2 separate regions of the Homo sapiens genome follow, and region 2 is linked to region 1. Evidence: fine-mapped expression QTL. Tissue or cell type: prefrontal cortex. Region 1 holds a variant in brackets; the other region holds the start of a gene. All regions are shown on one strand. Distances are from middle to middle.

The links. PIP is the estimated chance that this variant, and not a neighbour inherited with it, causes the effect.
Region 2: SIVA1 starts here. The variant in region 1 is fine-mapped to the expression of SIVA1 in prefrontal cortex (GTEx, PIP above 0.99).

Annotation. Positions count from the first base shown.
Region 1 is chr14:104,396,452-104,404,552 of GRCh38, forward strand. It overlaps the pseudogene RNU6-684P. Among named protein-coding and RNA genes, the nearest start is that of LINC02691, 180 kb to the left of the region's middle. RefSeq lists enhancers at 6,622-7,188, 7,189-7,755. The variant T/C (reference allele first, on the strand shown) is at 3,203.
Region 2 is chr14:104,749,541-104,757,622 of GRCh38, forward strand. SIVA1 (SIVA1 apoptosis inducing factor) reads left to right here and starts at 3,607. Exons shown (of 4, transcript NM_006427.4): 1 at 3,607-3,779; 2 at 6,090-6,284; 3 at 7,064-7,220. The coding sequence starts at 3,662. LOC107987209 (a long non-coding RNA gene) reads right to left here. Exons shown (of 3, transcript XR_001750915.3): 2 at 6,866-7,880. RefSeq lists enhancers at 2,633-2,722, 3,426-3,927, 3,573-3,622, 3,633-3,702 and a silencer at 3,103-3,472.

The DNA of each region.
Region 1 (8,101 bases):
TTCGGGAGCCATTGTCAGGTGGGATTGCGTAAATGTCCTCCATGGCGTGAGGCCCTGACTCACCTGAACAACATTCCCCAGTGAGCACGGAGCAGCAGCCCGCCCGGCTCAGCAGTGCCTTGCCCTGGCCCTTTCTCTCCTCGCTGGTTCATCTGCATTAAAGAAACAGAAAGCTTCCTTCGCTGGCCCGCTCATTGCCTGTCTTCTCTCCCTGCCTCAGCTGCGGTCAGGCTCCAGGTGAGCTGCACCTGGCCGTCTCAATTACACTGCTTCTCTGGCATCGGATAGGAACTCTATGGCCAACTTACCCACAAGGTGGTCTGCAATATCTTTGAATAAATTAATGATTGAATGAATGTCTTAGTCCATCCAGGCCACTACAACAAAACAACACAGATGGGGCAGCTTAACAGTGGACATTCATTCCTCACATTTCTGGAGGCTGGGAGTCCAAGGTGAAGGTGGCAGCAGGGTTGGCTCCAGAGAGGGCTGCTTCCTGGTCCCCGGACAGCCTCCTTCTTGCTGTGTCCTCTCATAGCAGAGAGAGGATGTTCTGTCACGGGCCCTCATGACCTCCTCTAAGCCTCATCAGCTCCCAGGGGCCTCACTTGCAAATACCATCGCATTGGGGTCAGAGCTTCCACATAGGAAACATTTGGTCTGTAGCAACGAGTGAATGAATCATTACAGATTTCTCTATAAGACCACCAGGTCTTAATGTATTCAAAGATATTGCAGACCACCTCTTGGGTAAGTTGGCCATAGAGTTCTTATCCAATGCCAGAGAGGCCGCGTAAATGAGACGGCCAGGTGCAGCTCACCTGGAGTCTGACCGCAGCTGAGGCCGGGAGAGAAGACCGACGACGTCTGAGTCGTCAATGTTGTGAAAGATCTCCAGAGTGATGAAATTAAGGGTATTTATTTCTTTAGTTGTTGCTTTTGTTGTAGCAAACAAAATGAAACAAACACACATGCACACAAAACGACCAAGCAAAAAGTGTCCGCTACTTGTTAAAGTGAACCTCTAGTAAAGTTGTCTCTCTTTTTGTCACCGAGGATGAGAAACAGAGATGGGAATTCTATCCTCATGGAAAACAGGAGGCACCCACAACTCTGAGCCCCTGAGAGTGTGAAGGCCTTGCCGAGTGACCTCGCTGCTCCAGGGCGAGGCGGAGGCCAGGCTGCGGGGCTGCACAGCCAGCCAGGGAAGCTCCCCGCCCCAGGACTGCCCTCCCACACACTGCAGACAGTTGTTTCGGGAAGAACTCACTTTATATGCACAAATAAACAATGACAGAAAGGAATGAAAATAGTGTCCACTGAAAACATTACAAGAAAAAGGAAGAAAATAATAGAAAAGGTAAAAAGCAAAGACACAAAAAATCCTCGCATTGGGGAAGATGATGGAAACCTTCTTAACAATCAGAAACTTAACGATCTAAATGAAAATGTCTTTCACGTAAAACAAAAGCCAAGACAGACTTCAATAAGAAACAAAAAGATGATAGGAGATTTCAAAAATAGGCAGGCAGAGCTCAAGAAAAGAAGCAGAATTTTAAAAATCACAAAATGAAGGCCACACTAGAATCAAAGAAAAAGAGAATAGATTCTCCTAAAACCATTGCCAGGGATGTGGAGTCAAGCTTGGAAAAAGTGAAAAAAATTCACCAGAAAAGAATAAAGAGTTGCGATGGTTTAGAGGAAAGGATAGAAAAGGAAAACACAAAATGCCGACACAACACACACATAATTGGTGGCCTTGCAGGAGAAAATCAAATATAAAAGAAAAATAATTCAAATAATTCAAGAAAATGTGGTGAAACTAAAAAAGATGAAATCTATGGATTAAGAGGGTATATCATGTTTCTACAAAAATTGGTGCACTTGATCAGCACTGAGACTTGGGGGTCAAACACGAAGAATTTGTTTGGCACCGAGGCAAAAATATGAAGGCCCTGACATGAGAAGAGAAGTCCAAGCTGGCTTCAGATTTTCTACGGCAACACCTCATCTTAGAGAAGAGGGAAATAATGCCTGCAAAATCTCCAGGAAAAGAAAGTATGAACCAAGAATTTTATATCAGAGTAAAATTTTAGAACAGAATAAAGCTGTTACTCATGCTGAATCATAAAAAAGCGCTTCTGAAAATATTCACAAATGGAGGAACTCTTGTCTACTGAAGTTCCTTTTAAATAAATAAATAGAGAATGAATTTTAGTCCACCAAAAGGCAAATGAACAGGCTGTGAAGGACTAGGTCAAAACAACTGAGAGACTTAGGCCGTGGAGCGTTAAGTAGTGTGGAGTGTGTCAGTGGAGACAGGCGGCAGAGCTTTGGTGGCCTGTGACAAATAAATCCGGACAGCTCCTCCTCTCCCTGTGGGTGCAGCCACTCACCCAGGAAGTCCACTTCCCTCCACCTGACTCTAGGCTGGCCTCATGGCTTCTTTGGCCAATCCAATGAGGCAGAAGGGGTGTCTTGTGAGTTCTGGAACCTGGGTCTTAGGGCGTGGTAGCTTCAATTTTCACTGTCATGGCAAATCCTGATGCCGGGGCGCCTTCTGATATGGTTTGAATAAAATCTCACCTGAAATGTGATCCCCAATGTTGGAGGTGGGGCCTGGTGGGAGATGTTTGGGTTATGGGGGTGGATCCCTCATGAATGGCTTGGGGCTGTCCCCATGGTAGTGAGTGAGTTCTCACTCTTAATTCACACAAGAGCTGGTGTTAAAAAGAGCATGGCACCTCCTCCTATCTCTCTTGCTTCCTCTCCCATCATGTGACATTCTTGTTCCCCTTCCACCTTCCATCATGAGTGGAAGCAACCTGAGGCCCTCACCGGAAGCCGAGCAGATGCCAGTGACATAATTCTGTACAGCTTGCAGAACTGTGAGCCAAATAAACCTGTTGTCTTTATAAATTATCCAAGCTCAGATATTCCCTTATAGCAACACAAAACAGAGTAAGACATCTTCCCTGCGCTGCTCCCGCCACCCCTTCTCCCCGGAGAGCAGCTTCTCGGAAAATCACCTGCACCTGAATCTTTGGCTCAGCATCTGCTCTGAAAAACTTGATCTAACACGGCATCTAAGATCCAAAGGAAGTTAGCTCAGCCTGACGCCAGCTTTCTCTCTAAAAGCACCCAATCCAAGCACATGGCCTGTGGCAGGATGTGGAAGCAATGCCCCTGGGTCTCAGGACAC[T/C]CAGGGTAGGCAGGTGGAGAGCTCTTAGTATGGCAGGAGTGATGGGGGTGGGGGTGGGGATGCTGGAGGTGGTGCTGAGAACACAGGTGGCACAAAGACCCAGTCCACTCCTCCTGTGACCTTTGCCCTCCAGCTCCTGCCAATCAACTTCTCAGTCAGTGTCTAGGCCCAGCCCTCTATTGCCTCCGTGCTGCCATGGCCTCCCTGTCCATCTCCCAGGCAACAGAGGAGTCGGTCTGAGGCCTCCAGCCTCACAGCCAGTGTAGTTGCATGTTAGGTACCACTTCCATCCTCGGCTGTCAAAGAACAATGCTCCTTATCTGAAGAATGTGGTCTGGAGATAATTAGTTCTAACGGGACACAGCCCTGTGGCTGCTGTGGATGGGGCTTTGTTGTGGCTCAACAATGCCACCATCAGCCCAGATGTCGTGCACAGGCTTGGGCAAAAGGCAGGTGACTGCAGACTCACAGGGGCTCAAGAAGCACACCACATGGGAGAGCTGTGGAGATTCACTAAAGGATGGAACTAAACAGATCGACAGAGACAGACTAAAAAACAGCCTCTTCAGCCTTTGTCTGCAGTGTGCCTAATGCCTCCAGCCACCAGCAAATCAATAACAATAATAACAAAACCATCACCAGTGACGACAGGGGGCCCTCATCAGGCACTCCACCCATGAGGCACTCACAGTAACTCGATAAAGATGATGCAAATTACATATATCCCTATTCATAGGTGAAGGAAAGGAGGTGGGCAGTTTACCTGACTTGCTCCCAGTCCTGGAATTCTGAGCAGTGAAGCCGAGATTCAAACCCAGGATGCCTGGCTGCAAAGCCCACACATGTGCACAGCTGGCACCATACCCACCCGGTGCTGCCCACACATGTGCACCTGGCCCCATACTCACCCTGTGCTGCCCACGCAAGTCCCCACTGATATGGTTTGGATTTGTGTCCCCACCCAAATCTCATGTCAAATTATAATCCCCAGTGTTGGAGGAGGGGCTTGGTGGGAGGTGACTGAATCATGGGAGCAGATTTCCCTTTTGCTGTTCTCACGATAGTGAGTTCTCATGAGATCTGGTTATTTTAAAGTATGTTGCACCTCCTGCTTCCCAGTCTTCCTCCTTCTCTGGCCATGTAAAATGTGCCTCCTTCCTCTTTGCCTTCTGCCATGATTGTAAGTTTCCTGAGGCACCCCAGCCATGCTTCCTGTACAGCCTGCAGAACTGGGAATCAATTAAACTCCTGTTCTTTATAAATTACCCAGACTCAGGTAGTTCTTTTTTAAAAATTTTTTTCCTTTTAATTTTTCTTTGTCATCCTTGTACAGGGACCATGCTAATGTTCTCTGTACCATTCCAATTTTAGTATATGTGCTGCCAAAGTGAGCACTCAGGTAGTTCTTTATAGCAGTGCCAAAATTGGCACCAGGAAGTACCAGGAAGAGAAGAGAAGAGACCTGAAAATGTGGAAGCAGCTTTGGAACTGGGTAACGAGAAGAGGGTGGAAGAGTTTGGAGATCTCAGAAGAAGACAGGAAGAGGAGGGAAAGTTTGGAACGTCCCAGAGATTTGTTGAATGGTTGTGACCAAAATGCTGATAGTGATATGGACGGTTAAGTCCAGGCTGAGGAGGTCTCATATGGAAATTAGGAACTTATTGGGAACTGGAGTAAAGGTCATTCTTGCTATGCTTTAGCAAAGAGACTGGTGGTGTTGTAACCCTGCTCTAGGGATCAGTGGAACTTTGAACATGACAGTGATGATTTAGGGTATCTGGCAGAAGAAATTTCTAAGCAGCAAAGCATTCAAGATGTGGCCTGGCTACTTCTAACAACATATGGTCATATGCATGAGCGAGGAGATTATCTAAAACTGGAACTTATATTTATTAATAAAAGGGAAGCAGAGCATAAAAGTTTAGAAAAATTGTAGCCTGACCATGTAGTAGAAAAGAAAATCCCCATCAGGTGCAGTAGCTTATGCCTGTAATTCCAGCACTTTGGGAGGCTGCAGCGGGTGGATCACTTGAGGCCAGGAGTTTGAAACCAGCCTGGCCAACATGGTGGAACCCCATCTGTACTAAAAATACAAAAATTAGCTGGGCGTGATGGTGCACATCTGTAATCCCAGCTACTTGGGTGGCTAAGGCACGAGAATCACTTAAACCCAGGAGGCAGAGATTGCAGTGAGCCAAGATCACACCACTGCATTCCAGCCTGGGTGACAGCATGAGACTCCTCAAAAGATTTAAAAACAGAAAAACCCATTTTCTGGGGAGGACTTCAAGCCAGCTGCAGAAATTTGCATGAGTTGCTGAATGTCAACAGCCAAGACAATGGGGAAAATGTCTAAAAGGCACTTCAGAGACTTTGGCGGCAGCCCTCCGATCTCAGGCGTGGAGGCCTAGGAGGGAAGAATGGTTTCATGGGCTGGGCCTAGGGCTCCACTGCCCTGTACAACTTTGGGACACTGCTCCCTGTATCCTAGCCACTCCAGCTTTAGCCATGGCCAAAGGGCCCCAGATATGTCTTAGATGATGGCTCCAGAAGGTGCAAGCCATTCAGTGTTGGTGGCTTCCATGTGGTGTTGAGCCTGTGGGTACACAGAGGGCAAGGGCTGAGGTTTGGGAGCCTCTGGTTAGATTTCAGAAGATGTATGGAAATGCCTGGATGTCCAAGCAGAAGTCTGCAACAGGCCTGGAACTCTCACGGAGAACCTCTACTAGGGCAGTGTGGAGGGGAAATGTGGGGTTGGAGGCCCCACACAGAGTCCCCACTGGGGCACTGCCTAGTGGAGCTGTGAGAAGAGGGCCACTGTCCTCCAGACCCCAGAATGGTAGATGTACTGACAGCTTGCACCACGCACCTGGAAAAGCCACAGGCACTCAGCGGCACCCCATAAAAGCAGCCAAGGGGGCTGTACCCTGCAGAGCCACAGGGCTGGAGATGCCCAAGGCCTTGAGAGCCCACACCTTGCGTCAGTGTGGTCTGGATGTGGGACATGGAGTCAAAAGACATTATTTTGGAGCTTTAAGATTTAATGACTGCCCTGCTGCGTTTTGGACTTGCATGGGGCCTGTGACCCCTTTGTTTTGGTGGATTTCTCCCTTTTGGAGTGGGTGTATTTACCCAATGCCATTACCCTCATTGTATCTTGGAAGTAACTAACTTGCTTTTGATTTTCCAGGCTCATAGGTGGTAGGGCCTTGCCTTGTCTCAGATGAGACTTTGGATTGTGGAGTTTTGAGTTAATACTGAAATGAGTTAAGACCTGTGGGACTGTTAAGAAGGGATGATTGTGTTTTCCCATGTGAGAAAGACGTGAGATTTGGGAGGGGCTGGGGTAGAATAATATGGTTTGGATTGTGTCCCTGCCCAAAACTCATGTCAAATTGTAATCCCCAGTGTTGCAGGAGGGCCTGGTGGGAGGTGATTGGATCGTGGGGGCGGATTTCCCCTTGCCGTTCTCATGCTAGTGAGTGAGTTCTCAGGAGAGCTGGTTGTTTAAAAGTGTGCAGCATCTCCCCCCACCCTTCCTCCTTCTCTGGCCATGGAAGACATGCCTCCTTCCCCTTTGCCTTTCATCAGGATTGTAAGTTTCCTGAGACCTACCCAGCCATGCTTCCTGGACAGCCTGCGGAACTGTGAGTCGATTAAACTTTTCTTTATAAATTACCCAGTCTTGGGGAGTTCTTTATAGCAATGTGAGAACAGGCTAATACACCCACCTTGTAGCATGCCTATCTAGTGCTGCCCACACACATGCCCACTTTACTGTATGCCTGACTGGTGCTGCCCAGACATGTGCCCACCCTGCTGCATTCCCGCCCTGGTACCACTCAGACATGTGCCCACCTTGCTGCATGCCCACCTGGTACCAGGCCCATGCCGACCCTGCTGCATGCCCACCTGGTACAACTCAGACATGTGCCCACCCTGCTGCATGCCTGCCTGGTGCTTCCCAGACACGGGCCACGTTGCAGCATGTCTGCCCAGTGTTGCTCACACACATGCCCATCCTGCTGCATGCTCACCCAGTGCTGCAGGCACAGAGACAAAAAGCTCAGTCCTGCATTCAGAAGTTTCTGGTCCACTGGGGGCCAGTGTGGTTGCAGAGCTGTGAATAGCGCATGGGACCCACGGGGAGGTGGCAGCTCAGAACTTCCGTGGAGCCAGGGATGTGGGTGGGGATGGCTTCCCTAGAGGATCGCATCCAATCGTGTCCATGAATCTGAGCAAAGTGAGGGGGCCCCAGGAAGGGCAGGACAGGTGGGGGCATCCAAGCAATGCCAGAGCAGAGAGGGGACACAGGGCAGTTCTGAGGCACCTGCGAATGAGAAAGGAAGAAGGAAGAACCACATTCAGCCTGGGCGAGCACAGAGGTGAGAGGATTTGCTAACAGTGAGCAAAGGACATGGAGTCAAAAGGCCTTTGGTTTTGTTTTTCCTTCAGATGCAAAAGACTCAAGCATGTTTATGAATTGAGGGTAAAAGCCAGAGGAGTAAGTAAGAGGATGCTGGGGGAGCAGGGGCTTGGCACAGGTTCTGCTCCATGGCAGCAGGAGGGCAAGACTTGGATCGCATTAGAGCTCAACTGTGTGTTATTTACAAGGGACACTTAATACATTTTGATGTACGGCTTAAAAATAAAGGACTGATGTAGGCATTTGCAGCGGCAAATGTTGACAAAAAGTGCCAAGGAGTGACAATATTAGTATCCGCGGAAAATAAAGCACAAATCATTAAGAAGGACAAACAGACCAATTTATATTAATAAGAGTTATTATACCCCATAAAGTTGTGATGTCTAATACACAGCCGATACACACGTTAGATGTTTATGTGTCCAACATCGAATACCGAAATATATCAAGAAAACCTGTTAGATATATTAGGT
Region 2 (8,082 bases), 350 kb after region 1:
GAGGCCATCAGCCAGGGTCAGGAGGCATCCCACGAGAGCACACACTGTAACCCCATGCCCACCGCCCCCAGAGCCCCATCAGGGAAGGGCCAAAGTTTACAGCCACTCTCCAGGAGAGACCTCAAGACGAATTAGAGGAAAACTATGACAATGATTTTGTTTAATGATAATTTTCCTTTTTCCTAGCACTCTGGAAAGCTGCCAGTTTCTTTACAAGTTAACCATCAATCTGATGCAGGGCAGGTGAGCCCCAAAATTGGGGCTTAACCCTGGAGGGTTCATGGCTTCACCCAGGAAGGCATTCAAGGGTGAGCCAGTGGTGTTAGCCAGGCAAGTTTGTTAAAGCAGCAGAATCCTACCCAGCAACCTCTGAGGAACCGGCATGTGGCCTGGGGGACAGCCCCACTCCATAAGCTGCCCGATGTTCTGTATCTGTCCACGATGGTGATGAGACCCTAGGAGAGTTGCAAGTCTGAACACAGGGAAATCTTTAGAAATCCCCACGATCCATAAGATTGAAAACAATCCTCCTCTCTGAGAACTTCATCTATTTCTGGGATAAACCAAATCTGTGTTTAGTCACACGTGACTCCAACTGAGTAACTTTCAAGTCATTTCCCTAAGGCAGAAAAAATTCTCCATTATGCCAGCAAAGTGGCAAGGAAGAGCCAAGAATGCTTGATCCCATCCCCACCACAGGGAACCCTGCACGGCAGGAGGAGAAAGGACATCTAAGCTGGAGACTGGTAAGGTTTCAGCCACCCATGGCTAGGAAAGCATACACTGCCTCTGAGGGGGCGTGGGCAGCTGCAACACGGGAGTCACGTGGGAGGGGTTTGCGGGACTCCAGGCATCACCTCTTCACACCGGAGGCAACACCGATGGAGTCGTGAGAACATAGTCCAGGTGTGTCCAGAATTGGTGGGTTCTTGATCTCACTGACTTTAAGAATGAAGCACTAGGTCCTCACAGTTGACTGTTACAGTTCTTAAAATTGTTATGTCTGCAGTTTGTTCCTTCTGATGTTTGGACGTGTTTGGAGTTTGTTCCTTCTGGCAGACTCACGGTCTTGCTGGCTTCAGGAGTGGAGCTGCAGACCTTCACAAGGAGTGTTACAGCTCTTAAGGCAGTGTGTCTGGAGCTGTTCATTCCTCCCGGTGGGTTTGTGGCTTTGCTGGCCTCAGAAGTGAAGCTACACACCTTCCCAGTGAGTGTTACAGCTCATAAAAAGTGTGGACCCAAAGAGTGAAAGAGCAAAGCCCCAAACATGTGGCAGAACACCAACACGTTCCCACTGCCTGCTCGGGCGGCCTGCTTTTATTCCCTTATCTGGCCCCACCCATATCCTGCTGATTGGTCCATTTTACAGAGGGCTGGTCTGTTTTACAGAAAGCTGATTGGTCCGTCTTGACAGGGCGCTGATTGGTGTGTTTACAATCCCTGAGCTAGACACAGAAGTTCTCCAAGTCCCCACAGAGCACTGATTGGTGCATTTACAAACCTTGAGCTAGATACAGGGTGCTGATTGGTGTCTTTACAAACCTTGAGCTAGACACAGAGTGCTGATTGGTGTATTTACAGTCCCTTAGCTAGACATAAAGGTTCTCCAAGTCCCCACCAGATTAGCTAGATACAGAGTGCTGATTGGTACATTTACAAACCTTGAGCTAAACACAGAGTGCTGACTGGTGCGTCCACAATCCCACAGCTAGACATAAAGGTTCTCCAAATCCCCACCAGATTAGCTGGATACAGAGTGCCCATGGGTGCATCTACAAACCTTGAGCTAGACACAGGGTACCGATTGGTGAGTTTACAAACCTTGAGCTAAACACAGTGCTGATTGGTGTATTTACAATCCCTTAGCTTGACATAAAGGTTCTCCAAGTCGCCGCTAGACTCAGGAGCCCAGCTGGCTTCACCTAGTGGATCCCACACCGGGGCTGCAGGTGGAGCTGCCCGCCAGTCCCGCGCCGTGCGCCCGCACTCCTCAGCCCTTGGGCGGTCGATGGGACCGGGTGCCGCGGAGCAGGGGGCCGCGCAAGAGCCCACGGCAGGGGGGAGACTCAGGCATGGCGGGCTGCAGGTCCTGAGCCCTGCCTCGCGGGGAGGCAGCTGAGGCCCGGTGAGAATTCGAGCGCAGCGCCGGCGGGCCGGCACTGGTGGGGGACCCGGCGCATCCTCCGCAGCTGCTGGCCCGGGTGCTAAGCTCCTCACTGCCTGGGGCCGGTGGCTCCGATTGCGGGGCCCGCCGAGCCCACGCCCACCCGGAACTCACGCTGACCCGCAAGCGCCACGTGCAGCCCGGGTTCCCGCCCGCACCTCTCCCTCCACACCTCCCTGCAAGCTGAGGGAGCCGGCTCCGGCCGCGGCCAGCCCAGAGAGGGGCTCCCACAGTGCAGCGGCGGGCTGAAGGGCCCCTCGAGCGCGGCCAGAGTGGGCGCCGAGAGCGAGCGAGGGCTGCCAGCACGCTGTCATCTCTCACAGGGCGAAGCCCACGCCACAGGACGGGTCGGTTCTGTACCCGCCGGGGCAGGGGAGAGCCGCCTCTGGTGAGCAGAACCCCGGAGAAGGGACGACGCGGGTGCACCTCGCGGCATGGGGACACCAAGTCAGACGAACCCGCTGTGCAAGAACATTTTCCACACAGCGGCGCATACCCCCGCCCGGGGGCGCTCGGCAGCCGCACGCGGCCCTCAGAGCGCAGCCCCCACACGCCTTTACTTCTGGAAGGCGGAGACCGCCACAGTGAGGAGCTAAGCCAGCTGAGGCAACACAGAAAAACCCCCGTTCCTACCCAAAACCAAAAAGCGGGGCGCGGAGGCGCGCGCCTGCGGTCCCAGCTACCGGGGAGGCCGAGAAGGGAGGATCGCCTGAGCCCGGGAGGCGCAAGCTACAGTGAGCCGAGACTGCCACTGCACTCAGTCTGGGTGACAGAGCGAGACCCTGTCTCTAAAGGGGAAAAAAGAGCTAGGAAGAAGCGGGCTGCCTCTTAACTTCGGAGAAGTAAATGAGGAACTATAACCAGTGTCTACCGTTTAGGAACCAAACAAAAGCTGACAGGAATCCCGCCACCGACCCAGCCGCCCCAGACTTTGCCCTGGCCTATCCCGCGCCGCTCCTCAAACTAGACCCGCCCCGACGTCGCCCTGGCCTATCCCACGCCGATCCTCAAACGAGGCCCGCCCCCGATGCACAAGCTCCGCCCTCGTTGCACCGTCCTGACCCTCGGCCTCGCCCCCGCCCCCTGGCTCTTCCCGCGCAGCCGAATGCCGCGACCTGGCTCCCACCCTTCGTCGCTTCGCGCCGCATAGGAACCCCGCCCCTAGTCTCTCCTCCCGCCTATCCTGAGCGGCGCGCGCACAAATCTCTCCCACGGACCCGCCCACCCTGATCCTCAACCTGGCCCCTGGCCTTTCCCGCGGCGTCGAGTCCAGTACACCGACGCACGAGTCCCACCCCCGATCTCTCCCTCGGCCTATCCCGCGCCGCTCCGCGCAGGAGTCCCGCCTCCCACTTCGCCCGCAGCCTATGACGCGCCGCGTCGCTCCCTCTCCTCAAACCCGCTCTCGCCCGCGGATGGGCGCGCAGCTGTGACGTCACGGCGTCGTTGGTAAGGGGCTGGCGGCCGGGGAGCTGCGTAGCTCCCGGCCCCGCGGCCATGCCCAAGCGGAGCTGCCCCTTCGCGGACGTGGCCCCGCTACAGCTCAAGGTCCGCGTGAGCCAGAGGGAGTTGAGCCGCGGCGTGTGCGCCGAGCGCTACTCGCAGGAGGTCTTCGGTGAGTGTCGGGCGGGCTGCCGAGGGTCCGCTGCGTCGGGGCCTGGAACGGGCCGGGCCTCAGCGTCCCCTCTGAGGCCTGAGCGGGGGGCTGGAGGGCCCTGCTTTCTGGCCCCGCGTTCCCGGAAGCTGGGAGGCCGCGGGGACACAAGCTGGCCACGCCCAGGGCTGGGGTCAGTGAGGGGGATGTGAGGACCCCAGCGTTCGCCCACCCTGTCCAACAGCCTGAAAGAAAAGGGTCCCTGCCCCTAGCCCCCGCGCCCTCTTCCACGATCCCGGTTAGTCGCCGCCCTGCAGTGAGCGGCACCCGCCTGGTGCTTTCTCAGGACTGTCCCGTGCAGGATGTCCTGGGAGAGGTTGGGGAGCGGGGCGTCCTGCATGGAGTCAACCCGAAGAGTGCCCCTCCTGTCCCAAGAGGTATTCATGGAGCGCGCGGCCCTGCCAGGCACGGCGGCTTTCTCGGGAGACCAAAGGCAGGCAAGACAGATGTGCCCCGTCTCCCGGGAGCTCCCCAGCCTAGTTGGGGAGACCAGCAGGAGGAGTCGCCACAGGTGGTCGGGGCAGGCACAGGTTTGTGCAGGCGCACCTGCAGGGATGGCACGGAAGGCTTCTTGGAAGAACAGTCTGAGCGGAATCCTGTGGGGGCGAGTAGGAGTTAGCCAGGCAGAGGAAGGGAAGGAAGAGGGCGAGGCAGAAGCCAGGCAGCAGGAGAGCGAAATAGGACTCCGTGTGGCTGCAGTGTCCAGTTCTGGGTGGGATGTGAGGGCAGTGAGCTCCCAGGCCTTCTCTGGCTTTCTCCTGTGGATTTCAGGCGTGTTGATCTTATTGATCATCACTCTGACTGGGGTGATTAATACCCTGGGGCAGGTAAAAAGTGGAGCTTACCTTGCCTAGTGATTGGGACACAAAGTCTGCACCTGTAGAGCAGTTAGAGGATGACCCGGGGTGTGTGATTTACCTGGTGCCGCTTGTGCCTTGGGAATGAGGGAAAGACTCTGCCTCCCGAGGTTCCTCTGTGCGGTGTCTCCAGTGTGCTAGGGCTGTGAAAGCGAGTGCTATTCTGGGCCATGGGGAGGTAAGGGGAATGATGCCGTGGGAACTGTGGCAGGACCGCAATCGTGTGCCCTCTCAGGACAGTTGAAAAATTCAAACACTGTGCAGGCAAGAAGAGGAAGATGGAAATGGGGCCTGGCTCAGTATGGCCCTTTATTCTTCCCGAGTGTCCTGACCTGGGCGTTGGCAGGTGTGTGCCACTCACCGGGTCAGGTCAGGGAGGTCTGCTGGGTGCAGTGGGCCTTCCATGGTAAATGCAGGACACCTACTTTGAACTGTGTGACAGTTTCCAAATTCCAGGCCACAGCTGTTACCCTGATCTCTTAACCTCGAATTGTCCACAAGGCCTTGAGGACAAGGATTAGCCTCACCACGTGTCTGTCCCATTCCTTTCCCCTTATAGATGGGGGAAGGTGTGGGGGGCCAGGAGGAAGGTGCAGGGTGTTGTGGGCTGGCATCAGCTACTCCATGTGAGTTACCCTGTCACTATTATTGCTGCCCACTTCATGTAGAGCCACATAGAGTTTCTGGGATCTCTGCCTTTACTGTGTTATGGTGAGGTGCAAAACAAAAAACAAAGCATTTCTGGGTCTGGCCCTGGGCATCTGATTTTTCAAAGCTCCCCAGGTGACTGAACTGTGGCCTGATGGAAAACCACTGCTCCCAGGGATGGGTGGGTGTTCTAGAACAAGAGGTCTGGAAGGTTCTGGGATGCTTGTCTTGCCAGCAACTCTGTAGCAGGTGAAGGGGGTGTGCTCTGGCCAGAGGCTGTAGGCCCAGCTCCAAGCCTCTGGCTGCTTCCTTGGCAGGGGACGAGTTTTGTGAATTAGTGCTCCACAGTGCAGAGCTCCCTCTGTGCATTCCACAGAGCCTGGTTTCCAGGTGGGGAGTGCTGGGGAAGCAGAAAAGGGAGAAAGGGGACAAGCTTAGTGAGGCGAGGCCAGCCGTGAATTGCAGAAAATGAGCCGAGTGATAGGAGAGGGAACCCTTGCATCAGACACAGGTGGGGCTGCAGGGCCAGAGCCTTCCTGGAGGAGATGACAGCTAAGCCAGGTAAGGAAAGGACGCACAAGCATTCTCAGCATAGAGGCAGAGCAGGACCCAGCTCGCCAGGGCACAACACAGGCTGGGGTTACTGGGAGACAGAGGGCACACAGGAGGACGATGGGGTTCATGTGAGGCTAGAAAGACTCAATGGCCATGCAGGGGCTTCGTTGGTACACAGTGAAGGACGTGAGAATGATTTATCTTCCCCCAGAGAAGACCAAGCGACTCCTGTTCCTCGGGGCCCAGGCCTACCTGGACCACGTGTGGGATGAAGGCTGTGCCGTCGTTCACCTGCCAGAGTCCCCAAAGCCTGGCCCTACAGGGGCCCCGAGGGCTGCACGTGGGCAGATGCTGATTGGACCAGACGGCCGCCTGATCAGGAGCCTTGGGCAGGCCTCCGAAGCTGGTGAGTGGCACCAGCAGCCCTTTGTGGCTGTGGCACTGAGGGCAGGTGGTGGCACGAGCATTTTTCTTGATTTGCAAGGTCAGGCTTTTCCTCCCTGGGTAAGCAGGACTCTGACCCAGAGCTTGGCCTTCTGGCTCAGAAGGCTCCTGTTATCAGGAGGTCTCACATTCAAGACTGGAAGTTGTTAAACAGCTTCTAAGTACTGGGCCAAAAAAGCAGCAGAGACTCCCCGGGTATCCCGTCTGCTTTCCGCCTGCAGCCCCCTCAGATAGTCCCACAAGGCTGGAAACATGCCAGTCCCATCCCTATGCAGTGTGGGGTCTCAGAGCATCACCTGTGTTGCTGGTTAGAAATGCAATCCCCGACTCTACCTCAAGTCTGGTTGGTGTGTCTAGGAGGAGCCCAGGCACCTCTTTGTTAACCAGTAAGGCAGTGGGCCACACTGAGACCCAGATGGGACACATGGAGTTCTGACAAGCAACAGGGGAAGAATGGTCCTTCCAGCACTAGCCTCCAGGTAGCAGAGGGACCTGGTAAGGGAAAGAGCACTGAACTTGGAGTCAACTACAGGCATATCTCACCTTGGATCTCTGTAGTAAAACGGGGGTCCTGTGCACTGTACCAGGCTCACGGGTTGTCAGAAGGATCCAGTGTAGGTGGGGATGGGGTAGGCAGGTCAGAGCCCTCTGCCCTCAGGTATGCATGGAGGCAGGTAGCCCGGCAGTCCCGGAAACTCCAGTCTCCTTGCAGCCTGACGGCTTGGCGTTTCTTCCTCACAGACCCATCTGGGGTAGCGTCCATTGCCTGTTCCTCATGCGTGCGAGCCGTGGATGGGAAGGCGGTCTGCGGTCAGTGTGAGCGAGCCCTGTGCGGGCAGTGTGTGCGCACCTGCTGGGGCTGCGGCTCCGTGGCCTGTACCCTGTGTGGCCTCGTGGAGTAAGTACTTCAGTCCCTGGAGCTGCTGAGATCCCATAGCCCCAGCAAGCCGTGATGGGGGACGGGTGGGTCACCCATGTGGGCCCAGAACACACACGTGTGGCCCCTGATGCAGTGCCATCTGGCATTGCCTAACGGGACATGGTGGCAATAGATGCTTGGCCCAACTTTAGTGGTTAGTAATCCTCTCTAAGGGAAAGCTGAACCTCACAGATGACCTGCTCTGTATCCGGCTCTAGTCCCTGTCTTCAGCCACTTCCTGTTCTGATCTTTGAGCACCCCCACCTCCTCCTCCTCTGGTCTTTGAGCCCCCCCTCCCCCCGTCCGAGGAGCCCCTGGTTGGTGACACAGGTGCACACCGCAGCTTCACCACAGTCATGCGTGCCGTTTGGTTGTAGACCCTCTCAGGCAGGAAGTGGAGTGTTTGTGTAGTCTCCCATTTGTGGGTGGGTTTGCTGCAGCTGGCTGGATCCCGTCCTTACTCCTAAGGTGGGGAGGGGCGTTCTCACCCTAGGGGCTACTCACCTGGTGGATGGGAGTGGACAGTGTGGAGCCTGTTTGCCCTGCCCCGTGAGAAAGATGACTTCATCCAGACACATGTGGAACTGGCTCCATAGACCCAAAGCAAGCTTAGTCCAAACAATGTCTGAAATTGTCCATCTAAAATAGAAACCACATGTTACATCTCGAGTCCTTTCTCTCGAGCCTTTCTTCAGTCGGGGCAGAGGCCCAGACTCATTGGAGACGGAGAGCCCTGGGCAGGGGGGGCAGCACCAGGGAGAAGCGCCGCGTGCCAGTGATCGGCTCCCATGGCTTCAGCATGGGCAGGAGTGGGGTAACGCACCCCATCCAGGTTGGGAAT